7 linked regions of the Homo sapiens genome follow. The protein of the gene in region 7 purifies or fractionates together with the protein of the main gene of each other region. This does not show direct contact. Each region holds a gene or a part of one and is shown on either strand. Other genes may lie near its edges.

Region 1 (4,121 bases), on a different chromosome or scaffold from region 7:
CGCCTGTACTCCCAGCTACTCAGGAGGCTGAGGCAGGAAAATGGCGTGAACCCGGGAGGCAGAGCTTGCAGTGAGCCAAGATTGCGCCACTGCACTCCGGCCTGGGAGACAGAGTGAGTCTCAAAAAAAAAAAAAAAAACAACAACCCCACCCAACCAGACTAGCATGGCGAAACCCCATCTCTACTAAGCTGGGCGTGGTGGTGCACGCTGGTAGTCCCAGCTATTCGTGAGGCTGAGGCAGGAGAATCGCTTGAACCTGGGAGGCAGAGATTGCAGTGAGCTGAGATTGGGCCACTGCACTCCAGCCTTGGTGATAGAGCAAGACTCTATCTCCAGAAAAAAAACAAAATCCCCACCCAGCCCACCTGGCAGAGCAGATGCAAGGAGGGAGGTAAAGGCCTGTGGAGACTCTGCTGGTCTCACAGCCTATCTTCACCCTATCTCCTCCCTCATTCTCTCCTCCCTACATCCGACCCTCCTCACAGCCTGTCCCACGGGCCAGTGCTCAGAGAACCCCGCAGTGGGGTGGGGGCCAGGACTCCTTGGGCTCCCCAAAGCCTGAAGATGGGGGTGAGGGAATGCAGGGTGACTGCCTACCTCCCAGCTGTCCAGACGGCCAACGAGGGTGAAGGCGTGGCCCGGGGAGCCGTGTAGCCGCGTGTGGTGTCCCTGCAGGACAAGGTCACGCAGCTCCCGGCCATGCAGGGCCTTGGAGTGGGCTGTATCCAGGCCAGTCACCAAGCAGCCAGCGCCTATGTGAATGGGGCCCTGGTGGGGGACAGGGCAGGCATCCTGGGTGGGCAGGCACCCAACACCCCCCAACACATGCGGGATGCCAGCACCCTCGCCCCAATCTGCCCACACGCTCAGGCCTCACCTGCAGGTGGCAGTGCTGCAGGACGCTCCCAGGACCCAGCTGGACAGGGCCCTCCAGCAGGCAGCTGACCACAGAGCTCCCGGCCGCCAGAAGCTGCTGCTCCTGTGCAGCCAGGTAGGAGGAGCATGAGGGGGGTCGAGGCCCAGGGCTGCCCCAGCTCTCCTCCCAAGCCAAGCATCCAGGGGCAAAGCGTCCAGGCCTACTGCTCCCCTGCCCTGCAGCACCCTAGACTCCTCTCTGGACCTGCCTTGGCCCCAGCCTGAGACCTATTTCCATCCCACCTGTCCAACTACGCCCAACCTTGCCACCCTGGGGGCCACCTCTGAACCCTACCTGTCCCCTTCCTCAGCAGCACGGCACTGACCCAGGCCCACCACTGTCACCCCAGGCAGACCCCAAATAAAGGTCTCCTTTAGCTTCTCAATCAGGCAAGCTCAATGCAGAATCCTGAGTTGGCCACTTACTGGCTCTGTGGCCTTAGGCAAGTTACTTAGCCTCTCTGAGCCTCCAGCACTTCATGTGTAAACCAGGGTAACACCTGCACTCGGGTCATCTGTTCCAAGTGCCGGCTATTTTCTTCCCGGGAATCCACATCCCACCTGACCCCAGACAACCAGCAGGCACCGGAGGGGCAGGGAGGTCTCACCTCCACCTGGGAGTGCACAATCTGGGCCCCAGGAGCCCCGGGGAGTGTGAGGCTGAGCAGGAACTCACTGGCTGAGGAGGTCATGTAGCTGTAGCTGCCGCTGGAGACATAGGCTGTAAAGACATAAGTACTGAACCCAACCCCATGCCTGCTGCGACTCAGGGGCCAGGCTGCCTCCCAGCAGCAGAGACACATGGGGGCAGGTGTGGCCATGAGCCTGTTAGGGGAAGCTGAGTCAGGAACCTGCCCAAAGCCACACAACACAGCTAGAAAGTAGACAGGTTGGCCGGGCACAGTGGCTCACGCCTGTAATCCCAGCACTTTGGGAGGCCGAGGCAGGCAGATCACGAGGTCAGGAGTTCGAGACCAGCCTGACCAACATGGTGAAATCCCATCTTTACTAAAAATACAAAAATTAGCCAGGCATGGTGCCACGCACCTGTAATCCCAGCTACTCAGGCAGCTGAGGCAGGAGAATCGCTTGAACCTGAGACGCAGAGGTTGCAGTGAGCCGAAATTACGCCACTGCACTCCAGCCTGGGCAACAGAGCCATACTCTGTCTCAAAAAAAAAAAAAGAAAGCAGACAGGTTAGGGCCGGGCATGGTGGCTCATGCCTGTAAGCCCAGCACTTCGGGAGGCCAAGGCAGGCGGGTCACCTGAGGCCAGGAGTTCAAGACCAGCCTGACCAACTAAAAATAGAAAAATTAGCCAAGTGTGATGATGCATGGCTATTATCCCAGGTACGCAGGAGGCTGAGGCAGGAGAATTGCTTGAACCCAGGAGGCGGAGGTTGCAGTGAGCTGAGATCGCACCACCTCACTCTAGCCGGGGCGACAAAGAGAGAGTCCGTCTCAAAAAACAAAACAAACAAACAAAAAAAAACAGAAACAAAAGTGGACAGGCTGGGAGAGCCCAGGAATGAGACAAAAGGAAGACAAGAAGGGGAAGGAGGTAGCTCAGTGGGGGGCTCTGGCACAGGACAGGAGAACTGCCCAGTCCCTGTGCTGGGCTGCCTGGCCCAGCATGCAGTGAGCAGCTCCATTCTTGGGGTCCTCACTCCCATGGTCTCCCCACCCCAGGGAGCTGAGAGGCAGTACCCACCCATGGTAAGGGGCTGATCGCGAAGCTCCCTCCACAGCTGGGCCCGGGCGCTCTGCAGATAACCCGCTACATCTGCATCGCCTTGCCCCAACTCTGGGGGCCTCCCCACCAGGAAGTCCTCCCTGGTCACGTTCTCAGCCATGCAGTGGAGAATGTCAAAAAACAGAGACAGCTAGGGGAAGGGGAAGAAGCACAGCTATTGGCATGGCAGGGGTTCAGCCCCCAAGTTCTGAGGCTGAACCAGGGCAGTCCCGTCTGCGGAGACTCTGCCCCAGAGAGGGGAAGTGGCTGGCCTGAGGTCACACAGTGCCTCGCCCCCAAGCCAGGCCCCACCTAGCTGCCCTCCCCCAGTCACCTGGACAGGCCGGGCTCCGGAGTCCAAGCCTAGGTAGGTGCAGGCATCCAGGGGCGGGCTCACGTGGGTGGCTAGGAGGCGCTCGGCAGTCTCCACAGAGAAGAAGACAACCCCAGAGACCTGGAAGGGACCCCAAAAGGATCAGAGATGGAGGGCCCTGGACCAGGCCCTGGTACAAGTCAGGGAGGGCACATGCAGATGGGCCACATGAAGCTGAGTGCCATACCAGGCAGGGAGTGTCACCTTCTGACCACTCCAGCAGCCAGACTCCAGGCTTACTTGGGGTAGCTCCCACCAAGACACCTTCTGGGACACCCTCAACTGTCAGGCCTTCTCCTGAACCCAGTTCTCCACCCTCGCCATGGTCCACTCCCAGATCTCCATGCCTCTCCAATCCTTGCCCCTCATGATGGAAGCATTCCCGGAGTCTGGCTCTAGGCCTCCTCCCAACCGCACTCCCTAACTTGCTCACATTCTGGTTCTAGGCTTTCTTTTTTCGTTTGAGTTTTTGAGGTTTGCTTTGTTTTGTTTTACAGCGGGCAGGGGATTGATTCAGAGTCTCGCTCTGTCACCCTGGCTGAAGTGCAGTGGCACGATCTCTGCTCACCGCAACCTCCGCCTCCTGGGTTCAAGCGATTCTCGAGCCTCTACCTCTCAAGTAGTTGGGATTACAGGCACACACCACCATGCTCAGCTAATTGTTGTATTTAGTAGAGACAGGGTTTCACCACGTTGCCCAGACTGGTCTCGAACTCCTGACCTCAACTGATCCACCCGCCTCAGCCTCCTAAAGTGCTGGGATTACAGGCGTTAGCCACCGTGCCCGCCTGGTTCTAGGCTTTCTGGCTCAGGACAAGACCCTGAATTCCAAGGCTACCCTGTCCTCAGATTCTAGCTCTAGCTTGTCCTGGAGGCTTCTAGAAGGAATCGAAGGAAGTCAGACCCTCCCTCCCTGTCCCATAAGGTCCCCAAAGCCCCGCAACCTGGGCCCAGCAGCCATACCAGTGGCACCCGCCCATCAGGCCTGACACACCGCTGAATCTCTGCCTCAGTGCCCTGGTAGTAAATGTCCAAAACAAGGCCCTATGTGCAGGGAGAAACAGAATCAGCGGAGGGAGCAGGAAGGGATCTGGAAGGA
Region 2 (4,121 bases), on a different chromosome or scaffold from region 7:
GAGGAACTGAAGATAAAGCTCCTAAACAAGGAGTACCTATTAAGAATTAATTAGGATCTTTACTGTAATTCTTGATATTTGTAAGATTTGATGTCTGGCAAGGACCATGATATTGAGAGACTATTAACTAATGGTAGTCTGGGATACCAAATGCATTTTACACACACTTGTGAAAAATCAATCATCTCTTACTAGCAGGAAAAATGACCACTAATAAACAGAAACCTCAACTTAGGCAAACATCAGTACTGAAATATAAATGTGATTTCATTTAATATACCTATTAATAGTTTATTGACATTAAAACAAAGTTAGTCTTTAGCCTTAACAAAGATGGAACAAGCGATTTTTTTGATTTGTTAATTGATTCAATATTTATTGAGCAACTGTTATGCTCCAGGATTGTGCCTGGGAAGCCAGTGGTAAAACTGCCCTAGTCTCTGCTGACAAGGAGCTTATCACTTAAATTTAGAATAAGCAGGGAATCTAACTTTTAAAATGAACAAAAAGAGATTTTCACTTCAGTAAGGACTGAAAAATGAGGCTGCCCATACAATACTCTTTTGAGATTCTGGAAGGGTTTTTATACATTCTAGTATCACATGTTAATGCTGAATACTCACAGATAATACATAAATTAAAAAATTGTGAAGTTAGGGAAGTATTGTACATCAAGATATTTCCTGAAACTCACAATACTAACAAAGAAGCTATATGCATTTATTATTATAAAATGGAACTTGATTTTTAAAAGAATCATTGTCATCTAAAGACAGCTTCTCCTTTCAATTACAAAACTATGACTACATGTACTGGATACTGGTAAAATTTCTCTTCTACATTTCAGATCTAACAACAGAGAACCTTTCATCCTTATTCTCGAGCAAATGGCCATGTTGCATCAAAAGGCCAACAGCTCACTTGAATTAAAACTGCAAAGCTTCTTGGCTACTTAGCATACTGAAAATGAATTAAACACTCAATGTTGCTTACCTTGTAATCTCTGGACACATTTTCTGATGTCACTGAACCTGAAATCTGACTAGAAATTGTAGCAGCTATAAGCTGTTTACACCATTCAACATGTGATCCTGTGGGACTAAAAAAAATAGCATGGATTACAAAACGTTATATCATAGGATCTCAGTGAAAAAATTAGCACTGAATAGGAATATGATAACACTTCTTTTTTTAGATGAACTAACTAGACTCTTTGGTTACCTTCACATTTTATGTAAGAACTGAAATAGCGACTGACAACTAGGAAATAAGATTAGATTCCAGGTTAATTTTAAATGAATCACCCAATTTTCTCAAACAAAGTTGAAGATTCTAGGTGTTAGTTAAGCTTACTATTCTCTACCATTTAATGGAATTTTACTCTATTAAAATTATATGGAAGAAATACTTCTTTTTTTTTTTGTGAGATGGGGTCTCACTCTGTCACCCAGGCTGGAGTGCAGTGGTGCAATCTCAGCTCACTGCAACCTCCCAGGTTCAAGTGATCCTCCCACCTCAGCCTCCTATGTAGCTGGGACTACAGGCACATGCCACCAGGCCCGGCTTTTGTGTGTGTGTGTGTGTGTGTGTGTGTGTGTGTGTGTGTGTGTGTGCGCGCGCGTGTAGACAGGGTTTTGCCATGTTTCCCAGGCTAGTCTCGAATTCCTGGGCTCGAGTGACCCACCCGCCTTAGCCTCCCAAAGTGCTAGGATTACAGGCATGAGCCACCACACCCAGCCGGGAGAAATATGTGAAATATTTATCTTACAGCATAGGCTTTTCAAACATTCAATCAATTTCATGTTGGTAGTTTTAAATCTAGAAAATAGTGTACTTTTGAGTGAAGCAAAGTGACTCAGAAAAGTAAAGCTGAACATGAGATTTATAAATTACAGCCTAGAAAAATGATGTTCTCTGTGTAGTACTAACAATACCTTACACTTCTATAAGTGCTTTGACAACTTACAAATGGTTTTTATTTTTTATTTATTTTTTTTTTTGAGACAGAGTCTTGCTCTGTCACCCAGGCTGGAGTGCAGTGGCGCGATCTCGGCTCACTGCAAACTTTGCCCTTCTGGGTTCAAGCAATTCTCCTGCCTCAGCCTCCCTAGTAGCTAGGATTATTTAGGCGCATGCCACCATGCCTGGCTAATTTTTGTATTTTTAGTAGAGACGGGTTTTCACCATGTTGGCCAGGCTGGTCTTGAACTCCTGACCTCAGGTGATCCACCCGCCTTGGCCTCCCAAAGTGCTGGGATTACAAGCACAAATGGTTTTTATTATATCAGAGCCTCACAACCATGGTGTGATGAGAAGGCAGAACAGGGACTAGCCGACTTGTCTTTGAGGAGAGAAAATCGAGGCACAGAGGTGACATGCCCTGTGAGAAAGTGGCTGTCCTCAACAGGACATGGAACAACCAATAGCGACTGACTCACTGCACTGAAGCCAGCAGCACAGATGCGAGCCAACCGCTTTACATGAAAACACAGCAATGCAAAGAAAATGTCATCTTTCACTCCCACAGAGCTCTGAGGCATCAAAGCATTTTCACACACGTAGCCTTGCCCAGCCTCACAGTGACCCATTTTACAGATGAAAAAATTAAGGTCCAGTTTTGCCCAAGGTCACACGACTGGCAAGTGGTCAGGCTGTACTCACCTGACCTGAAAGACCACATAAGCCAACTAGCGCAGTAAGAGATTTAACAATTGCCCCCAGAGGCCGGGTTCCTCTCACAATTTGGCAAAACACTAAGAAATCAAGCTAGAGGGCTAAAAACACCGACAAAAGTTTACCTTGCAGGTAGCTTTCACTGTAAAGAATGTTTCAGGCCTTTAAAAAAAAAATCATATCACTAATTAAACCCACACTCACATATCTGAAGGACAGAAACACCTGGAATCCCCAGGCAATATGGAAAATGACCCAAATAGTAAAAGAAAGAAAACTGAAGTTCTGTGCTAGTGATCCAAATTGCAGTCTCTGATCAAAACAGACCAGAGGTTATCTGTATGGTTGAAAATACTGAATGAGCAGAAATTCCTATCACATGCCAGGAATCTATATACCACAATTTCGACCTGAGGGGGAGAAGGAGAGAAAAGGGAGAGATTTGTTTCCTTTTTAAAGGTTAAGTCACTTTCATTCCCACGTATATCATACTTTTCTTGTCATAATGCCTTTTTCTGTCAGCACCCACCAGTTGCAAATACAGGAAGAAACTGCAGAAACCCAACTGCTGAGCATGAGTGTGACCTGCTATTACCACCTGCCTGCCCGGCATGCCTTCCCCCTTCTTCTGATAAAGACCTTCCTCTTTACTTTGGGAACTGCCCTTCCCCACAACACAGGCTTCTGTGGGGGAAAGCGGAGAAGAAGGTTGACCCCTTCCTCCACCTGCTCCCACTTGTAGGTGAGTTACCTAGGACCAGCCAATCCCAGACTTTTCCCCTTGGATCCTGAAATACATGGATCTGTATCCAGAGCTGCTGGAGGCCACTCCCCACCCCACCCCACCCCTACCATCTTAAGGAACTCACAGCGATTAAAAAGTGAGGGAAAATAAAAGAGAGAGGGAGAGAGAGATGGGGAGTCCCGACAACACTGTTTGCAATCCTGACCTCAACTGTGCCTGTGGCCATCTCTCCTCCTGTCTGGAGCAGTTCTGTGAGCCAGGGCATCTCATTTGCCTTAAGCTAGATTGAACTGTGGTTTCTGTCACCTGCAACCAGAAGCATCCTGGCCAATGTAGTTACACACAGTGAAGCACAGTGGGTTAGCAGACAGGAGGCCTGGACATGAGTCCTGCTTCTGTCACCAGCTAACTCCATGATCTTTGGCAAGACACATCCTCTTACAGGACCACAGCTTCCTCATTATTAATTACAGTATTCAGAAGAGAAGTGAAGGCCCCATAGTCCCAGGGACATGGCCAAGTCCCACCCATAGAGCCAGGTTCCATTCTAGAGGTCACTCTTCAAAGAAAAGTGTGAATCTGAGCTTGTTGAGCTGACAGAACTGAGAAAGGAGGCCATGATTCCTCCCCCATCCCTTCTCTGTAGTCTGTGCAATTGCCCTCTATACTCCTGGTGTCAATAACTACTTACAGGCTGGAGGCT
Region 3 (4,121 bases), on a different chromosome or scaffold from region 7:
GAGTAGGGAATCACAACTCTTCATGCCAAAAGGGACTTCAAAGTCCCAACATTAGAAGAAAAAATGTTTTATCGTGTGCATGACATGTTTCTGAGTCTTCCTGGGGCCTAGAAGATCATGGAGGCTCTTTCTCCAGCAGCCATAACTGCCCGCTGGTTAATGAGAGACGTGCTACACAGCCACTCCTTACCTTTTCTCTCGGTTCCTTAGGAAACTCGCCGCTCAGCTCAGCACTCTTCTCATATTTGACTTCGTTGCTGGAAGCTGAACTTGAAAACCTGGTACAGAGATCTGAGTTACCTTCATGGAGCTGGAAGCTGTTATTCCCCCCAGCCCACACACCAGCTCAGGAGGCCAGGCCAAGTAACCTTCAGAAAGGACATTTCCTTTCCACTTACCAAAAGGAGAACTGCCCAGTGGGGAGAGCCTACCTCAAACACAGCATTACTGGGGTGGAGGAGCCCCAGCTGGGGGAAGACACCCAGGTGCTAGTCCCAGCTCTACTGCCTCTTCACTGGGGGAGCTTGGTTTAGGCTTGTGACCTCACCTGAGCCTCTGTTTCTTCATCTATAAAACAGGGATAATTAACACCTCCCCATCCCTTTTATGGGGCAGATAAGAGGCTACTCAAGGCCCTAATAGCTACGTGAGGGCGTTTAGGGAAGAGTGAAGATGCCCCAGGAGGGATAATGAATGGCTGTTGTTAGCAGTGCCAGGTAAAACAGCAGCCCCACCTCAGAGCAGCCCCCAGACTGAAGGGTAGTGGGCTGTCAGGGAATGTGTGGGGGCCCAGGTCTGTCTCTGCCTCTCTGGATCACCAGGGCCCTCTTTGGGCCTCGTTTTCCCCACCTCAAAAAGGGAAGAGGGTGTGGAGCTAGAATCTTTCCATCTCTGGAGAGCATTCTGGTGTAAATACCTGAAGATGTAGCACGTGTTTAGTTCAAAGCTGGGGACTGAAGAAAAGGAAAGGGAGAGAAATCAAACCACTTAAACTTAACCCATACTCAGCAACCCAGGGTCTGTCTCCTGGGATATGTGAGGCTGAGAGGAGTTCTGTCTAAACTCAGAGCCTCAGTTTCCCCACCTGTCAGATGGGGATAATCACACGGCCTCTCCAAGGCTCTTCCATGACATAGTGAGAGGAAGCATATTAGGACCGTGGCATAGGTGTCCTTCTCTGATATCTTAATTCAGGGGTTGTCAGCCCCGGCTACACATAAGATCGACTTGGAAGCTTTTAAAAACTACCAAAATACAGGCCGGGTGCCGTGGCTCATGCCTGTAATCCCAGCACTTTGGGAGGCTGAGGCGGGCAGATCATGAGGTCAGAAGTTCGAGAACAGCCTGACTAACATGGTGAAACCCCGTCTCTACTAAAAATACAAAAATTAGGCCGGGCGTGGTGGCTCACGCCTGTAATCCCAGCACTTTGGAAGGCTGAGGCGGGCGGATCACGAGGTCAGGAGATCGAGACCATCCTGACTAACACGGTGAAACCTCATCTCTACTAAAAATGCAAAAAATTAGCTGGGCGTGGTGGCTGACGCCTGTAGTCCCAGCTACTTGGGAGGCTGAGGCAGGAGAATGGCGTGAACCTGGGAGGCGGAGCTTGCAGCGAGCCAAGATCGTGCCACTGCTCTGGCCTCAGCGGCAGAGCGAGACTCCGTCTCAAAAAAAAAAAAAAAAAAAAAAATTAGCTGGGTGTGGTGGCGCGTGCCTGTAATCCCAGCTACTGCGGAGGCTGAGGCAGGAGAATCACTTGAACCCGGGAGGTGGAGGTTGCAGTGGGCCGAGATTGCAACACTGCACTCCAGCCTGGGTCACAAAAATAAATAAATAAATAAAAATAAAAAATAAAATAAAAACTACCAAAATAGAACACCCTCCCCAGACCAAGTGAATCGGAATCTCTAGGGGTGGGGCCCAGGCACTGGTATTTTTTCCGGTTATTCTAAAGTACTGAGGGCCAGTGGTCTAGCTTTGGCTTGGCTGGCTGTCCTGGTTCCCAGGGCCGGGAGGGCAGTCTGCCCAGAGATCCTGCCTTTGCAAGCTCCACCCTGGACAAAGTATGTCAGTGGCATGCATGCCATTAAGAGCCAGTCGATCATGCCGAGTGGCATCTCTCTGTTGTGGCCACTTGTGGGAAAACAAAGAAGAGATGTCGGAAGTGGGCCAAGTTTAGAATATCATTATTAACCAACCGACTTAGAATATCATTATTAGCCATCTGACTTAGAATATCATTATTAACTAACTTAGAACATCAGTATTAACCAACTGACTTAGAACATCAGTATTAACCAAATGACTAAGAATATCTTTTTTGTTTTTGTTTTTTGGTGTTTTTTTTTTGAGACGGAGTCTTGCTCTGTTGTCCAGGCTGGAGTGGAGTGGTGTGATCTCGGCTCACTGCAACCTCTGCCTCCCGAGTTCAAGCGATTCTCCTGCCTCAGCCTCCTGAGTAGCTGGGACTACAGGCGCCTGCCACCACGCCTGGCTAATTTTTGTATTTTTAGTAGAGACAGAGTTTTACCATGTTGGCCAGGCTGGTCTCAAACTCCTGACCTTGTGATCCACCCGCCTCGGCCTCCCGAAGTGCTGGGATTACAGGCATGAGCCACCGCGCCCGGCCTAGAACATCATTATTAACCAACTGACTTAGAACATCATTATTAACCAAATGACTTAGAACATCGGTATTAACCAGCTGACTTAGAACATCGGTATTAACCAACTGATTGACAACATCGGTATTAACCAACTGACTTAGAGTATCATTATTAACCAACTGACTTAAGAGTATCAGTATTAACGAACTGACTTAGAATATCATTATTAACCAAATGACGTAGAATATCAGTATTAACCAACTGACTAGCCCAAGTTACCTTGACTCCTCTGAGTTTATTTTTTGGGCCACTCATAAAGGCTTAGGCCCAATCTTAAGCGTTCTCTCTCTGACTTCAGGGAAGAAAGGCTTAGCTATGGAGACAGGCTGAGCTGGAATGCCATCCAGCTCCCACCTCCCCACAGTATTTCACCCTTCTGCCCTGCCTCCATGAAATGGGCACATACCGCCCACTTCACTCACACACTACATCTGAAGCTGAGAAAAGCCATGAAAATTGGGCTCCGGGCCCCCCGGCTGGCCATACCCAGAGGAGAGCTGCACTGCCTCTCCGCACCTCACCTTTCTCATCTGAGAAATGGACACTGCCACTACCTCCTCTTGGGCTATGGGTAAACTGAGGGGGGGTGACAAGTGCCCAGCATGGAGCCTGGTTCCGTCTTCCTCAGGGTGTGTGGGTGGGCGGCTGAGAGAGGGGTGTGGGATGTGCCTACTTACAATTTGGTCAAATCCGCCGACAGCGGCCGAGCCTGGAACGTCCTCCTCCTGACCTCGGGCTTAGCCTCTGAGCTCTCGGCAGTCCAGCCTCTGATCCGTTCCTGAACGCTCACAACCCCTTTCTCCGGCTCTGGTGCCGCCGATGGGGACGCAGGGGTGGCCAGGGGAGATTCAGACCCCACTGCCAAGGCCAAGGTGCTGTCCTCCCGAAACAGGCTGATGCACTTCCTGACACTCCTCCTGGAGGCCCACTCTCCCCCTGCCGCGGCCTCCCCATCCGCCACTCTGCTCTTAACCTCAGCAAGTTCTAGGCCCCTTCCCAGCCTGGGTGAGGGGGACTCAGCAGCCTTCTCTGGCTCTGGGTCCAGCTTGGCCTTTTCTTCCCAGGGACTCTGGTCATTGCTGGGGGTGACCCCAGATGAGCCCCCCACCAGGGCTCTGGGGCTGCCCATCTCCGGCTTCGAAAGCATCTTCTCCTTCCGTTCACGGATTTTCTTGGCCACCTCCAGGAAGTCCAAATCAGGATCATGAAGAGGAGCCTCCGCCTTGACCAAACAGTCCCTGTCCAGCTTGGACGCTGCTCTGGGCCTCTCTAGCCCAGCCATATCCCCTGCTGTGGGTCCACTTCCTTCATCGGCCACCTTCCTCAGCAAGGCCTCTTTGTTCTCAAACCGGGCCGTGAGGTCCATGGACAAGGGCCTGGGCTTCCTCACCCACGTCTTCTCGGGAGGGGTGGGTGGCACTTTGCCCACTGTGGCCGCTGCGCCGGGGCCTG
Region 4 (3,500 bases), on a different chromosome or scaffold from region 7:
TCTTATACAAAAACTGATGGTCACATAATATTTTTTTCAAAAATACTAAAGTTAACCAATCTCTTATGACCAAGAAAAGTGCTAAACAGAATACAGTCATTCCCACTACCATGCATTTCCACAGCTCCTTGAAAAGGACATTATACATTGGGTACAACATTCACGATTCTGGAGACGGATACAGTAAAAGGCCAAACTTCACCACTGTGCAACGTATGCATTAAGAAACCTATACTTGTGGCCGGGCGTGGTGGCTCATGCCTGTAATCCCAGCACTTTGGGAGGCCAAGGCAGGTGGATCACCTGAGGTCAGAAATTCAAGACCAGCCTGGCCAACATGGAGAAACCCTGTCTCCACTAAAAATACAAAAATTAGCTGGGCGTGGTGGTGCACACCTGTAATCCCAGCTACTCGGGAGGCTGAGGCACAAGAATCACTTGAACCCAGGAGGCGGAAGTTACAGTGAGCCGAGATCGCGCCACTTCACTCCAGCCTGGGTGAAAGAGCGAAAGTCCGTCTCAAAAAAAAAAAGAAACCTGTACTTTTATGTACTTATATTCCCTAAATATACAAAAAGTTACAAAATAATAATAATAATAAGGACGTGAAAGAATACGTACTCAGAAGCTGCTCATCTCTCTGTTTTCTTCTAGGCTGTACATATGTAGCATTGAATGAATCTGTGATAAGTAGGGAAGGCCTGCTTAGCATTTCCAGGGAACATCCATTTAAATGGCTATAAGAAAGTTTAAGAAGAGGAATATTTTATATCATTTCAAGTAAACAATAATAGCTTCTCTTACTTAAAAAATAAGCAGCTTCATTTATAAGGTGTTCCCTCCTCTAACTATAAAAGTAGACATGCTCATTGATAAGAAATCCAGTAACTTCAAAAAAGTATAAAGAAGAAAATAAAAATCTTCCAGAGTACCATTACTCAGAGATAACTGACATAATATTTTGGTGTACATCCTGCTAACCATATAAGTTTTTCTATGCACATATGTATTTTTTTTATTTTTCTTTTTGCCCTGTCTTATGGTAAGTACTGATATACATATGTATTTTACAAAGCTGATATCCCATATACATTCCTATACGCTCAGTTCTATATCCTGGTTTTTACCCAGGACATAAAAATTTTTTTCTAAACTAAATGTTTAACAGTTATAAAAACATTTTATTGTGTCTACACTGTATTTGATCCTTTCCCTTTACTGATATTTCGGTCACTTATTTTTGCCATTATAATCTTCCAAAGAACATTTTTTACAAAAGCTTCAATTGCATTTCTGATTGTTTCTTTAGGTCACATTCCTAAAAATGTATTTACTGTTAATACATAGTACTGCTAAAAGGCTTTCCAGCAAGATTTAACCTCATCCAGAAAAGTTCAATCAAAAAGACTGACCAATTCTACATACTTCCCAGAAGAAAATCACCATTTAAAAATAATTTTGGACTAGTGCAGTGGCTCATGCCTGTAATCCCAACACTTTGGGAGACAGAGGTGGGCAGATCACTGGAGCCCAGTAGTTCAAGACCAGCCTGGGCAGCATGGCAAAACCTCATCTCTACTAAAATTACAAAAATAGCCAGGCATGTTAGAGCGCACCTGTAGTCCTAGCTACTTGGGAGGCTAAAATGGGAAGATTGCTTGAAGCTGGGAGGTCGACACTACAGTGAGCCGTGATTGTGCCTCCAGCCTCGGTGACAGAGTGAGACTCTGTTTCAAAAAAATACATAAAAATATAAATAAGAATAATAATAATTTTAATGGTATCTAACAAAAAAAGATCATTTAAATTTTCTCTTTTGACTTTATAACTTTTGTCCATCTTGCAACTGGTATATTTTTATTAATAAATTAATACTTGATCTTATATATATGTTGTAAGTTTTTGGGCAACTTGCTGCAAATATTTTCCTACTTTGATTTTTTTTTTTATTTGTTGTTTCAGACATTTGAACCTGTATGTCATCAAATCTATCAAACTTTTACTTTGTAACTTGGTTCATTATTTTTATGCTTACAAAGTCTTTTCCAAATCAGAGATCAGACTCACCAATATTGCTTCATTTCTATTTAGTTCTAATCCATCTGAAATTTCTTTTGTTATATAATTAAAAGGACACAAATTGATTTTTTTCCAAAATGGTTGAATCCTTCAATACCATTTACTCAAATAGCCATGCTGCAGTTTGCCACGGTTACTACGAGACTGAACGAAGGAGGACGAATGCAGAAATGAAAACTTAAAACAAAAGTAACTATTTTAAAGGAAGGGGTCAGGAGAAGAAGAAGAGAGCTCCCTGCTTCTAGTGAGCAAAGGGAGCTGCCTTCAGCTTCTACAGCCCTTCATATTTATTGGGTAGAAAGAGCAGGGAGGACGAGGTAACAATTGGTCAGCTGCTTAATTGATCACAGGTTCACATTACTGCTAACAGGCTTCAGATGTGTCTAATCACAAGAAACACCTGCACCTGAGGCCTGACTGCCCTCAGCATTCCTTCTGGGTGGCAGACACAGTTTGTCAGTTTGCCAATTTTCTGCGTTTATGCGAACAGTTTGCTGTTTACTCATATAGCCTCCAGTGGTATACTGAGTTGATCACGACCCTCACTCTTTTGCCCTGCAACATAGCCATCCTTTCCTCATTAATCTATGGTTATAAGTGTCTAAAATTCAGTCTATTTGTCTTAAATATTTCTTAATATAAAGATCCTGAGACTATTGTAATGTAACACAAAATAGCTATGAACTTAATGTACAGATAAAACAAAACGAGCCTGTAAGAGACTAAACACCAAAATATTATATAGTAATGCTCTGAGTGCCACATGAAGTGTGTAAAATCATAACTAGAATTGAGTTCCCTTTCAAAGGGACTAACTTTAAACATACAGGGCAGTTATATTAGATGGTAATTACATTATGTGCAAGGCAACTCCTGTTTCTAAAACTATCAGATCTCGTGAAACCCATTCACTATCACAAGAACAGCACGGGAAAGACCCAACCTCATAATTCAATCATCTCCCACCGGGTCCCACCCACAACATGTGGGAATTATGGGAGCTATAAGATGAGATTTGGGTGGGGACACAGAGCCAAACCATATCACGTTACAAAACAAAAGAACAACCCATCCACAAAGTTGTGTTAAATAGCAGGTCAAGAACATGTAATTTGATACGTAAAAAATTCATCTCCTTTGCAACATCTCCAGGGAGATACCCGTTTTGTAGAGTGTATACTTAACCTATAAATTTTTAAAATCTCTTATGTCTTATACCATACTTTCCCCCTTACTATGCAAATAATTAATTTTGAAAACACTCCCTATTTGACGGTTTTAAGTTGCTCTAAATTTCTGGTAACCAAAACAAAAACTGTGTTTCTTATTTTTTCTCCAAAGAATAAAATAATACCAATTGCATTGCCTTTAGCTTTTCTCTTGATATACCTACATCTCCCTCTTGTGGTTGAAGTCAACTG
Region 5 (4,121 bases), on a different chromosome or scaffold from region 7:
CAAGAGAGGGAGAGCATGTCAAGCTGAGGGCACAGAAGTGTGTGCAAAGGCAGAAGACGACATGGGACACTTGGGCTGGGCATGGTTCAGAGCAGGAGGCAGTTGGAGTTCAGAGACTGGCAGGGTTAGCATTCCTGTGTGAGAACCCGTTCGGCTCCTTCATCAGCCTGTAGCCTTGTGGAGTAGCCCCACCTCCGAGGTGGAGTGGATGCACCTGGTGCCTCCCCCATGGGTGGTCATGAGGCCGTTTAGCAATAGTAGCTTGAGTTGTAGCAGCCAGGTCCTGTGCCAGCTCTTTGCTTATTGGAGGATGTCCATGGGAAGGGCTTACTCCAAAGAGCCTGGCAGGCACAAGGGCTTCAGGAATTGGGTTCTCACTGTGAAGATGTTTGCTGAATCATGGCAATGTGAAGTAGGGAGCAGAAGCAGAAGGAGAGTGGGGAGAACTGATGGACAGGTGAATGGAGGCCAAACCTCAGGAAGGCCTGAGCCTTGGGGCACTTTCCTCTTTTTTTCAGCCCCCTCCTGTGTCATGTCCTCACTATCTACCAGGACCTGTGCCTTGTAGGATCTCATTGTAGCCTCCTAACATCCCTTTTGAGTTGATGTTTAAGAGTCTCATTTTATAGAAGAGCAAACTGAGGTTCAGAGACCATGCCCAGAGCATAGCACCCTTGGTAGGGAGAAGCAGAGCCAGGCATTGAAATGAGTGTATCTGCTGCCTAGCCCTCTGCTGTCTTCCCCTCTACTCTCCTGTCTGCATTGATTGGCCCCTCGTTTTATATGGGTATTCCTCCTCCCCACCCCCAATCTCCTTCCAGGTCCAGGAGCTGATCATCAACAAAGACCCCACACTACTGGACAACTTCCTGGATGTGAGTGACTGACAGAAGAGAAAGGGGTGTGGTGTAGGGGAAAGGGGATGTGGATCCTTGTGTAGCCCTGATCCACTTTCTCTCTAACATTGGCAGGAGATCATCGCATTCCAAGCAGACAAGTCAATCGAAGTGCGAAAATTTGTCATCGGCTTCATCGAGGAGGCATGGTATGGGGCGAGGCACGGAGCCCCGGGAGCATTCTCACTGGTGGCAGCCTTCAGCTCGTGGCCTGGCCTGGAGGCCACCACTGAGAGGCCTGCCCTCTGCTTCCCAGACCCTTTCTCTCTCTCATACACACTGATTCCCCAGCAAATACTTAATAAGATGGAAACCCTGGGGTCATCTGTGATTCCTCTGCTTCTTCCACACTTCACATCTACATTATCACTAAGGACTGTGGGCTCCACTTTGAGAATATCTGTAGCATCTGACCGTTTGTCAATCACTTCCTCTGCCACTATGCAGGCCCAAGCCACCCTTTCCTCCTACCTGATGACTTCAGTGGTCTCTCTCTGGCTCCCTTCTTTTTCTTTTTAGTTAAATTGAAATTCATATAACAAAATTAGCTTTTTTTTTTAATCTTTTGTTTGTTTGTTTGTTTTGAGACGGAGTCTCGCTCAACTGTTGTCCAGGCTTGAGTGCAGTGGCGCAATCTCGGCTCACTGCAACCTCCGACTTCCGGGTTCAAGCTATTCTCCTGCCTCAGCCTCCCAAGTAGCTGGGATTACAGGCATGCGCCACCACATCCGGCTTATTTTTGTATTTTTAGTAGAGAAGGGGTTTTGCAATGTTGGCCAGGCTGGTCTCAAACTCCTGACCTCAGGTGATCTGCCCGCCTTGGCCTCCCAAAGTGTTGGGATTACAGGTGTGAGTCACTGTGCCTGGCCTTTTTTTTTTTTTTGAGACTGAGTTTTGCTCTGTTGTCCAGGCTGGAGTACAGTGGCGCAATCTTGGCTCATTACAACCTCCACCTCCCAGGCTCAAGAGATTCTTGTGCCTCAGCCTCCTTGAATAGCTGGGATTACAGGTGCGTGCCACCATGCCTGGCTAATTTTTGTATTTTTAGTAGAGATGGGGTTTCTGCCATGTTGGCCAGGCCAGTCTTGAACTCCTGACCTCAAGTGATTGGCCCACCTTGGCCTCCCAAAGTGCGGGGATTACAGGCATGAGCCACGACGCCCAGCAAAAATCAGCTATTTTAAAGTGAACAAGTGAGTGGCATTTAGCACGTTCACAATCTCGTTCCAGGGCATTTCATCCCCCAAAGAGGAATCACCGCACTCATTTCCCGCTTCCACTCTTGCACTCAGCAGCCAGAGTGACGCTGTTAAATGTAAATCAGTCTTGGCACACCCCTGCTCTCAGACCCCAGCTGGCTCATCAGCTTACTTAGGTGGAAACCCAAACTCTCACTTCGGCTTCATCTCACTTCTGATCCTCTCTGTCTCCCCTGCTCCTCAGAAGTCACAGTTGGATTTCGCAGCCTGTCTGCTTGCTGTTCCTGCTAGGGGCCCTCGTCCCCAGGTTGCCACCTGGCTCTCCCCTCCCTTCCCTCAGGTCTCTTCCTCAGAAATTCCTTCCTGCCCGCTCCCATGCAGCCCCATGTCTCAGGCACCCCACCTTCACTGTTCTTTACAGTGTTCCTCACTCATTGAAATAACCTTGATTCTTCCCGCAAAATATCAGCTCTGTGAGGACGGGGCTTGACTTTTTCTGTCTTGCTGGCCACTTTGTCCCCAGTACCTGCCTGGAGCAGTGTTGTCACCTAGTAGGGGCTGACTACGTATTTGTTGCACACGTGAATGAGTTGAACATAACAGTCACCACATGGAACACGTACTGTGCCCTGCGCTGTGTCAGGTCCTTTCCCGTGTTATCTCCGTAATTATGGCAGCCTCGATGGATACTGTGGTTATCCTCTTTTTACAGAAAGGGAAACAGGCTCAGAATGGTCAAGTGACTTGTTCAAGCTGGTCACTTGCTCATTTGTTTATTAAAGCTTTACTGGATGCTTTGTGACTGGGAGGAAGTAGACTAGCTACTGTGTATTAAATATTTGTTTGTAAGGCACTGTATTAAATGCTTGAGCAGCTTCATTATTCGTAATACTATGGATCAGTTGTTTGACCCTTTAACTGAAGAGAAAACAGTCTCAGAGAGGTGAAGTGAATTTTCTTAAGGTCACACAGCCAGAATGTGGCAAGGCTGGGATTTTATTTATTTATTATTTTTTTGAGATGGAATCTCACTCTGTCGGCCAGACTGGGGTGCAGTGGTGCAATCTCGGCTGACTACAACCTCTGCCTCCTGAGTCAAGTGATTGTCCTCCCTCAGCCCCCCCGAGTATCTGGGATTACAGGTGCCTGCCACCACACCCAGCTAATTTTGTTTTCTGTTGTTGTTTTTTTTTGTTTTTGTTTTTGTTTTTGTTTTGAGATGGAGTTTCGCTCTTGTTGCCCAGGCTGGAGTGCAATGGTGCGATCTCGGCTAACTGCAACCTCCACCACACAGGTTCAAGTGATTCTCCTGCCTCAGCCTCCCAAGTAGCTGGAGTTACAGGTGCCCGCCACCATGCCCGGCCAATTTTGTATTTTTAGTAGAGATGGGGTTTCACCACGTTGGTCAAGCTGGTCTCAAACTCCTGACCTCAGGTGACCCACCTGCCTCAGCCTCCCAAAGTGCTGGGATTACAGGCGTGAGCCACTGCGCCTGGCCAAGGCTGGGATTTTAACTCATGTCTGCAATGCCAGAACCCAAATATCCTATCTCCCCATTTACTGGGAGAATTTGTGGTAAATTTTCTGAATTTGTAAAAAGTCCATTCAGCAAATACATACCATGTGACTGCTGTCGTACCAGGCATCCATGTTAGGCTGTAGTATAGCAGTGAGCAAAAACGTATTATTCCTGCCTTCATGTAGCTGACAGCTAAGTTTCATATTTTTTGACTGATTTAATTAATATTTCAGATTGTAATGTATGCTGTGAAAATTCTGTGCTGAGCTCCTATTTATTCATTGAACATTTGTTGGAGGCCCTTCATTTTTTTCTTCAATGAAAATGACCCTGCTGGGGTTATTGCCAAGCTAGGAAAGGGTCCCTACTTTTTGAGCCCTCAGACTGAGGCAAGCAAAACTAGTGATTACAGAAAACAAAGTGCTTTAAAGTAGCAATGGCTGGTGTTTACCGAATGCTTTTTGGTGTTTACTGAATGCTTTCTGCATGTCAGGCACTCTTCTAAGC
Region 6 (4,121 bases), on a different chromosome or scaffold from region 7:
GATCCCCCAGCTACTCGGGAGGCTGAAGCACGAGAACCGCTTGGACCCAGGAGGCACAGGTTACACTGAGCCGAGATCATGCCACTGCACTCCAGACACACTAAGACTCCATCTCAAAAAAAACACAAAAAACAAAAGATACAGAGTTACAGTAAATATGTTAATATCAAACCCAGGAGGCCTGGTATGTAACATATTTCTTTTTTTTTTTATATTTTTGAGATGGGGTCTCACTCTGTTGGTCCAGGCCGGAGTGCTGTGGCGTGATCTCCACTCACCACAACCTCTGCCTCCCGGGTTCAAGTGATTCTCCTGCCTCAGCCTCCTGAGTAGCTGGGACTACAGGCGCGTACTACCATGCCTAGCTAATTTTTGTACTTTTAGTAGAGAAGGGGTTTCACCATGCTGGCCAGGCTGGTTTCGAACTCCTGACCTTGTGATCCACCCGCCTCAGCCTCCCAAAGTGCTGGGATTACAGGCGTGAGCCACCGCGCCCGGCCAGTAACATATTTCTTAGGATCTACTCAACCTTGAGAATACCAGTGAGCAATCCACCTCCCACTGTACATTGCATATAGAGAAGACACTGAGCCCTAAGCCCAACACAGTTCCCCTTCCTTGTGTCCAGCTCCTAATTTCTCACCTGTGTAATATGACCACACCTCCCCAGTCTGGACTGTTCCTGAGGCTATGGGCAATGTGCACAGCCAGGTCTCTGAGCAGATTCAGGTTATTCTGAAATGGATATGGTAACTCAGTAGATAAATGGAAAGGATAACAATAGAGAGTATCAGCTTCCCTCCACCTCATTCTCCCCTCACTCCCACTTTGACAAACTACACATCTGTTTAGGCAGAAGACCAAGTCTGCAGAGCCTATCCTAGGCAGGGCCCATGCCCTCTCTACCCTCCATGGAATAAATCACCTTCTGCAGGATCTTGGTGGAGTTCTGGAGCTTTTTCACTGCTTCCACATGATCCTCTGCTCCACACCTGAAAGAGAAAGGTCAGAGGAGACCTGCGCAGCTTCCCAGTCGTTTCTGATGTTGGGGACATAAATCAATAATTTCCTTCTTGCTATGGTGCCTCCCTGCAGTCAGGGACCAGGAGATATTCTGAGGAGGTCTCTTAGGCAACTGGGAGAAAACATACAAAGGAATTAACCACTTTTCGTGGTTCTGATTTACTATCCAAAGCACTTGATCTTTTTTTTTTTTTTTTTTTTGAGACAGAGTCTTGCTCTATCGCCCAGGCTGGAGTGCAGTGGAACGATCTTGGCTCACTGCAAGCTCCACCTCCCGGGTTCACGCCATTCTCCTGCCTCAGCCTCTCGAGTAGCTGGGACTACAGGCGCCCACCACCATGCCTGGCTAAGTTCTTTTTGTATTTTTAGTAGAGACGGGGTTTCACGGTGTTAGCCAGGAAGGTCTTGATCTCCTGACCTCGTGATCCGCCCACCTCGGCCTCCCAAAGTGCTGGGATTACAGATGTGGGCCACCACGCCTGGCCGCACTTTATCATTTACGATTGCATCTTATCTCCCAGAGGTAAGAGATTATGTCGAAAATCTCAGAAATGGGAGGTAATCGAAGGTACTGAAACAGGCATACTTAAGCAGAGCAGTCAGTGCTTTTTCAGTTCCATGACTTCTCTCCATCCACTTCAGCACCCGGTTCCCAGACAGAAATATCAGGTTGGTTCTGTTCTTTTTCCCCTTCTCAGTGCCCAGAATCTTAATGACCTACATGAGGCAAGGGGGTAACACACACACACACGTGTGCACATGCATAAACCACAGCGGATCCTAGAACCTGAAGGCAGGAGAAACCTATCTGTTCCTCAGCTCTGAAACAGTGAAGGGGAGATTTCACTTAGGACTCCTCGATTATCCCCCTCTCCCACTCCCAGCCCCATGTGATCCCCTCTCCCCCAATCCCTCTTCTCAGCCACTCCACAGCCGTTCCTCACTTACCTGAAGGTCACTGAGATTGCTCACATGGGTCCCACAGCACATGTTGGAATCAACGCCCTCGATGTTAACAACCCGAATGGGCCCAGCATGATCATCAGGCAAACCCCGGCCACTCACCTGGACTCAAGGAGAGGGGAGGGACTGTCTGAATCTGATGAGGAATCATTCCGCAGAAACCATCCCTCTGGCTCTACCCTTACCTGCTCCACCTCAGGATCATCCAGGCTCAGTTCTCGGACATTCACAGGCAGCCGATCTCTGATTTTTTCATTGACGCTCTGCTCAATGGCAGCTACTTGCTCTGCAGTCATAGAGGGGGTGTCCAGCTCAATCGCACTCCGAAATCTCCCTAACTCCCTGTCAGAAGTACAGTGGCCACAGATAACATATCTTACTGAACAAGAAAAAGCTGAAAGCTTTTCCTCTAAAAACTGGAACAAGCATACCCTCTCACCACTTTTTTTTTTTTTTTTTTTTTTTTTGAGACGGAGTCTCGCTCTGTCGCCCAGGCTGGAGTGCAGTGGCGCGATCTCGGCTCACTGCAAGCTCCGCCTCCCGGGTTCACGCCATTCACCTGCCTCAGCCTCCCGAGTAGCTGGGACTACAGGCGCCCGCCACCACGCCCGGCTAATTTTTTGTATTTTTAGTAGAGACGGGGTTTCACCGTGTTAGCCAGGATGGTCTCGATCTCCTGACCTCGTGATCCGCCCGCCTCGGCCTCCCAAAGTGCTGGGATTACAAGCGTGAGCCACTGCGCCTGGCCTTTTTTTTTTTTTTTTTTAAGACAAGCTCGCTGTCACCCATGCTGCCATTTGGTGGCAATCACAGCTCACCACAGCCTTAATCTCCCCGGCTCAAGCAATTCTCCCACCTCCGCCTCCCTCCCAGTGCTGGGATGGGCCTGCCTACAGTTAGTCTTATGCCTCCCACTCACCATGATGTTGTCTTCAGCTTAAATAGATGGTCAGCAACTGCCGTGATGAGATGCTGCCCTAAGCAAAGAGAGCCAGAGACAGGAGAAAAGTGAGAAGCCTACATACTCCCACAATGATAAAATATGAGCTACAATGATAAAAGCACAGAAATTCTCCTTGTTGAAGACCTGCTAAGCACTGGGTAATACACTTTAGATACTTTATTGAAAATCACAATGAGAATTCTGCAAGAGGCCTTATGATACCATTTCACAGATGAGGAAACTGAAGCCTAGAGAGATCAAATAACTTGCCATGGCAATGTAACTTATAAGGGGCTGGACTTGAACTTAACTTCCTTTTTTTTTTTTTTTTTTTTTTTTTGAGACAGTCTCATTCTGTTGCCCAGGCTGGAGTGCAGGGGCTCACTGCAGCCTCCGCCTCCCAGGATCAAGCAATTCTCGTGCCTCAGCCTCCTGAGTTGCTGGGATTATAGACGTGCATCACCGTGCCCGGCTAATTTTTCTACTTTTAGTAGAGATGGGGTTTCACCACGTTGGCCAAGCTGGTCTTGAACTCTTGACCTCAAGTGATCCACCTGCCTTGGCCTCCCAAAATGCTGGGATTACAGGTGTGAGCCACTGTGCCCAGTGAACTTAAGTTCCAATATGCAGCATTCATCCATTCAACAAGTATTTATTGAGTACCTACCAAATGCAAGGCACAGGGCTTGACATAAGAGATACAGCAGCATCCCTGATTGACAAGAGTGATGATGAGGAGAAAGAAGAGGAAGAGGAGGAGGAAGAAAAGGAGAAAGAGGAGGAACTATCAAGGAAGAGGGAACAAGACAGCCAAAGGCCTTAAGGAAGAAAGAAGTAGCGCATGTCAAAGGAATCCAGAGATGACAAGCAAGGCCAGGATGCAGCCAGCAAGAGGTCAAGGGACACCAGATGAGGCTACAGCAGTAGACAAGAGCCACCCAGATACAGCTTGTATGCCATGGTAAAAAGTTTGGCTTTACACGAAGACCTACAGGAAGCCTCTGAAGAGCTTTAAGCAGAGGAGTGACATAATATTTTCATTTTTTAAAATTTATTTCAGTCAGGCGCGGTGGCTCACTCCTGTAATCCCAGCACTTTGAGAGGCCAAGGCAAGTGGATCATGAGGTCAAGAGTTTGAGACCAGCCTGAAACAACGTGGTGAAACCTCGTCTCTACTAAAAATACAAAAATT
Region 7 (4,121 bases):
CTTTCTCTTTGTCTCTCTTTCTCTTTCTTTCTTTTCTCTCTTTCTTTTCTTTATTTCTTTCAGAAGAGGAAAACAAGTGCCCAAAAAAACAAATTAATATTTTCCATCTACTACAAAAATTAAGCCTGGCATTACCATCTTAAGAACTAATAAATGGTCCAAAAAATAGGTGCATTCACTTGTGAAAAGTTCCCACACGGCCTCTTGCTGCTTTTTCAGGTCTAATTGATCGGTCGGGAGTTTGTGATGTGTTTCCAAGACTTCATCCCAGGTCTTATCCTGTACATGAGGGAAAAAGAGAGAACAAAACATTTCCACCTCAGTGGATTGACCTGTTGGCTATTTGCTTTGGCTTGCAGTTCCAAAGGACCAAGCAACCCCCGAAATCATGATTTCCTGCTTCAGACCCTGGGCATCCCTCTTGACAGTGACTCCCCAAGTGACCCAAGCCACAGCTTCTCTCTGTGGGGCTCCGGGATGCCAATTCCTCCTAATATGCAGCATGAAATGCACAATGTGCATTATTTCTAGTTTAAGATTCAAATCAATTCAGATTGATGATGTTTTGAATTATGCTTGAGAATATCATGAGTCTTTTTCAGTTTATTGACAAAAAAAACTCAAAGAACCCTAAACCCAGGACTGGGAAGTCTGATTCCAGGTTCCGTTGGCAAAACTTATTGAAATTAACTACTGAAGAAGCATGAAGTGAGAGCTTTAGAGTGCAAAGAGACCTTTAGAAATTGTCTTATCAAAAACAACTTAACGTTTCAAATGAGGAAATCCAGGCCCAGAGAGACGAAGAGTAGTAACACCCACTTTTAACATTTGTAGAGGCTTCCTGGCCTATGAAGTGCTCTCACATTTGTTACCTTATTTAAGATAAAACGACTTTCCCCAGCTTTCAGTGTGTTTGAGGAGAGCAGGCCCTGCTCAGTCCTGGGTTCCTCTCTTGCATTTTGCTCTTACTATAAACAAGGCAGTAATCTGGCAGCTTAAAATACTGACCCGACCTTCCCCACCCCACCAAAAAACGAAAAGAAAAAGTCAAACCCCATAGTTAACAGTTTGAAAGATACCTTAAGACCGTAGAAGTCATAGCCCCTGAAGCTGGTAATTTTCACAGAGGACAGGCAGTTTTCCAGATCAGATATGTGCTTGTGTTTGTCTTTGCCCTGCTCGAAGATGGTTAGAAACAGGATTTTCAAACATTGATTCTTTAATGACATGACTTCGGTAGCCTTGGCATCTTTCGTTCATTCCCTAACATTCATGATAAGAGATGGCATATTTTGTCTTTAAGCCACTAACAGTTCCAAAGCCATTTCTGAGCTCTAGTAGGAGCTGCAGAACCACAGAATGTCAGACCTGGGGGACACAGGCCCGTGAGACTACCTTGTCCAAACCTCTCATTTTACAAATTAAAAAAAAAAAAATCCTAGGCACAGAATGGTCATATAGCAAACAGTCTTATCATGCCTACCCATTGGGGTGACATAGCCTTCACAGTCTTAACTTTTCCAAACTCTGGACCCTAAGATTTATTAACATCAGAAGGTACCTCAGACATATTGGTTCAACCCTTAATTTAGCAGATGACAAAATAAAGCCCAGTGTTCAAGCGAGTTGCCCCAAACAATAATTCTCTGCTACAGAATACCAGAATATGCTGGAAACTCTATTTTCCTTAGAATGGAATCACCCACTTATTTTTGTTATAGTCATTTTTTCTTAATAATATTTGTTTAAAAAATCTGATTTCTAAGATAATATGTTTATTGTAGAAAATTTGAGAAAAAACAAACAAAAAAAAGCATGAAATGTGTCTTCACCCCTATATACCCATTGGAAATATGGTATTCTGATCATATTCATAATTAATTTTTAAATGGTATAATGTACCATATTTACACATCCTTTTGCAACTTGCTTTTTAAGCTTATATTGTGAACATTTTCTTTTTAGTTCATTCACTATTCTATTGCGACATCATGAATTGCCCACTTAAAGAGTTCATTTTACCAACCAAAGCAGGAAGAAGCTATCAAATAACAATGTGCAAGGCTTTTAAAAGTCAGCTTGGCTGCATTTCAAATGAATGTTTATCACAATTTTTCAACTTGTTCTATTGCCTCAGAGTGCACGATATTGGCATGGATCTAAACAGTTTTGTGAAAGTTAATCAATGTTTTTTTCAGGAGCAAGAGAAGGCACAGGTTATCTGCTGTTGCAGGTAGGGGGCTCCCTGTGTGCTGAAAGGAGACCGTGTCATAGTTTCAGAATGTGCTAATGGGCTGTGGCTGGTTTCTCTGGTAGGGTTATGGCACTGAAAGAGGAAACCTATTGTAGACTCATTAGCCTCCACAGCAGCAAAGGAATCTTGGAACCAGTTAAAGACCTCCTACTGCAATTGGGACATATGCCTTTTGTTGATGTCTGAAACCATAGTGACTGCATGTTGTGGAAATAAAAAATCAGCAGCCAGTTGGAAAAGAAAGAGGCTGAGACAATGGAAGCAGCATTGGAGTTGTGGGAAAGTGAGTGCCAACCCCGTGTTTTGAAGGGCACTCACCATGGCTTTCTATGGGTTTGACCAGCCTCCTGGCCAAATGGCTGGGTGGGTATTCCAGTGAGGGGAGAGGAGACCATTCTCCCAGTGGTCACATTAACTCTTGAAAACGACACACCCATTTAGTACCTTCTTGCCTCCATTGTGGTGGCAGTGGTTAGGAGAGGCAATGAGAAGCATTTGAAGGTTACGAGAGAGGATACACAGGGTAAAGAAATCGAGAAGCCAAGGTTAATTCTGGAGTCTCAAACTTAGTAACTAAGAGGTAGGTGGCATGAAGATGTACAGTAGTCATTGGTGACATGGAACTGGAGCAAAACTGAAGGTTAAGACTGAATATATAAATTTTTGGAGTGGTTGACAAATCAATGAGAAAAGGCAAGATCTATGGAGAGCTCTAATGAGAGAATGGAGGGAGGAGTTTCCAGGTCTGGTGATGGGGACTCCTACAGTTGAAGGAACAGGGCCACATCAGGGGTAGAACAGACTCAAAGCCAGACTGCCTGGAACTGCTGCATGCTCCATAGCTTATGAGCTGTGTGTCCTCAGGCAAACTAGTCAAACTCTCTGAATCCATTTCCCCATTTTCAAAATGAGAAGTAATAATGTTACCTACCTTGTTGGATTGTTGTAGAATTTATGAGTTCACATGTGTTAACTGACATGCATAAACAAGAATACATGCAAACAGTAACAGTACCTGGTAATGTGCTAAACGTTATAGAGGTGTTAGCTTTTATTACTAATATTATATTGATGGTTGGGAAGAAAGGAAGGAGGAAGGGAAGAAAGGAAGGAGGAAAGGAAGGAAAAAAGGAGGAAAAAGAAAAATCTCTAAAGATTGGAAAAGCACATGACAACATAGAAGTATGTTTGTTATATTGATGTGGATTACCATTTATAGAGATATGAATTACATGATAAATAAGGCTAAGAGGATAAATGAAAGAAGAAGACGTTAATTTTAAGAAAACAGATATTGTGTTCTTGTGAAAGTGAAGCTTCTAGAAATGACTTTCTCTTCATTGCTGAAAACATTTGCTGAAAACGTCCACTAATTATTCTTCCTTTGTGTATCTCCCTCATTGCTTCCCTCCCTCCAACATAGTGCCAACCATTTAGCATGTTTTCCTCCGCCACCCACAGTTTACTTGTCAGTCCCATCTTCTCAATTGTGAGCTGATAATGGACATCTTGGCATCTTAGATATCTGTCCCAGTACTTGGCCCAGTTGCTCAACACATGTGTGTAGAACAAGTTGCTTCTTTTTGGGGAAAAGAATGGATCAATCCCAACAACTTGTAGTAGTGTCCCTTCCTTGGCCAAGTTCTTCCCTTCTGAAAGCATATTCTATCTCTCAGGCAGCCCTCAGAGCTTCCCTGTCCTAGATAAGCCCTCGGGAGGGCTAGGGGGGAGATGCCCCTTCTCCTGAGACCTCAGATGTGATTGGTGACCAGCTCTGCCTCTGTTTATTCGAAGAAAGAGCTCAGGAGGGGCTGCATCATAAGCCTTGTCTCAGATCTGTCAGAAAAACAGACAAAGCACGTCTCTA

What was found.
Region 1: the proteins of PLEKHG7 (region 7) and FCSK purify together in Homo sapiens (affinity purification with mass spectrometry; one large-scale study listed by BioGRID and IntAct). This does not show direct contact.
Region 2: the proteins of PLEKHG7 (region 7) and MTMR1 purify together in Homo sapiens (affinity purification with mass spectrometry; one large-scale study listed by BioGRID and IntAct). This does not show direct contact.
Region 3: the proteins of PLEKHG7 (region 7) and KIAA1671 purify together in Homo sapiens (affinity purification with mass spectrometry; one large-scale study listed by BioGRID and IntAct). This does not show direct contact.
Region 4: the proteins of PLEKHG7 (region 7) and CPSF2 purify together in Homo sapiens (affinity purification with mass spectrometry, with the first as the bait; one large-scale study listed by BioGRID). This does not show direct contact.
Region 5: the proteins of PLEKHG7 (region 7) and SYMPK purify together in Homo sapiens (affinity purification with mass spectrometry; one large-scale study listed by BioGRID and IntAct). This does not show direct contact.
Region 6: the proteins of PLEKHG7 (region 7) and AARSD1 purify together in Homo sapiens (affinity purification with mass spectrometry, with the first as the bait; 2 studies listed by BioGRID). This does not show direct contact.

The regions. Positions count from the first base shown.
Region 1 is NC_000016.10:70,467,831-70,471,951, reverse strand, and holds part of FCSK (L-fucose kinase), read right to left. Parts: intron 4,067-4,121; coding exon 3,986-4,066; intron 3,104-3,985; coding exon 2,984-3,103; intron 2,801-2,983; coding exon 2,629-2,800; intron 1,639-2,628; coding exon 1,526-1,638; intron 982-1,525; coding exon 880-981; intron 771-879; coding exon 600-770; intron 1-599.
Region 2 is NC_000023.11:150,696,173-150,700,293, reverse strand, and holds part of MTMR1 (phosphatidylinositol-3-phosphate phosphatase MTMR1), read right to left. Parts: intron 1,100-4,121; coding exon 994-1,099; intron 1-993. UniProt on the Homo sapiens protein: Lipid phosphatase that specifically dephosphorylates the D-3 position of phosphatidylinositol 3-phosphate, generating phosphatidylinositol. Could also dephosphorylate phosphatidylinositol 3,5-bisphosphate to produce phosphatidylinositol 5-phosphate.
Region 3 is NC_000022.11:25,028,766-25,032,886, reverse strand, and holds part of KIAA1671 (uncharacterized protein KIAA1671), read right to left. Parts: coding exon 3,347-4,121; intron 279-3,346; coding exon 191-278; intron 1-190.
Region 4 is NC_000014.9:92,135,469-92,138,968, reverse strand, and holds part of CPSF2 (cleavage and polyadenylation specificity factor subunit 2), read right to left. Parts: coding exon 3,473-3,500; intron 738-3,472; coding exon 622-737; intron 1-621. UniProt on the Homo sapiens protein: Component of the cleavage and polyadenylation specificity factor (CPSF) complex that play a key role in pre-mRNA 3'-end formation, recognizing the AAUAAA signal sequence and interacting with poly(A) polymerase and other factors to bring about cleavage and poly(A) addition.
Region 5 is NC_000019.10:45,849,236-45,853,356, reverse strand, and holds part of SYMPK (symplekin), read left to right. Parts: intron 1-821; coding exon 822-875; intron 876-971; coding exon 972-1,045; intron 1,046-4,121. UniProt on the Homo sapiens protein: Scaffold protein that functions as a component of a multimolecular complex involved in histone mRNA 3'-end processing. Specific component of the tight junction (TJ) plaque, but might not be an exclusively junctional component. May have a house-keeping rule.
Region 6 is NC_000017.11:42,954,233-42,958,353, forward strand, and holds part of AARSD1 (alanyl-tRNA editing protein Aarsd1), read right to left. Parts: intron 2,964-4,121; coding exon 2,906-2,963; intron 2,329-2,905; coding exon 2,172-2,328; intron 2,089-2,171; coding exon 1,972-2,088; intron 1,741-1,971; coding exon 1,610-1,740; intron 993-1,609; coding exon 926-992; intron 736-925; coding exon 644-735; intron 1-643. Other genes in the region: PTGES3L-AARSD1 protein, read right to left, coding at 644-735, 926-992, 1,610-1,740, 1,972-2,088, 2,172-2,328, 2,906-2,963. UniProt on the Homo sapiens protein: Functions in trans to edit the amino acid moiety from incorrectly charged tRNA(Ala).
Region 7 is NC_000012.12:92,733,536-92,737,656, reverse strand, and holds part of PLEKHG7 (pleckstrin homology domain-containing family G member 7), read right to left. Parts: intron 1,179-4,121; coding exon of another isoform or gene 1,176-1,178; coding exon 1,080-1,175; intron 280-1,079; coding exon 136-279; intron 1-135.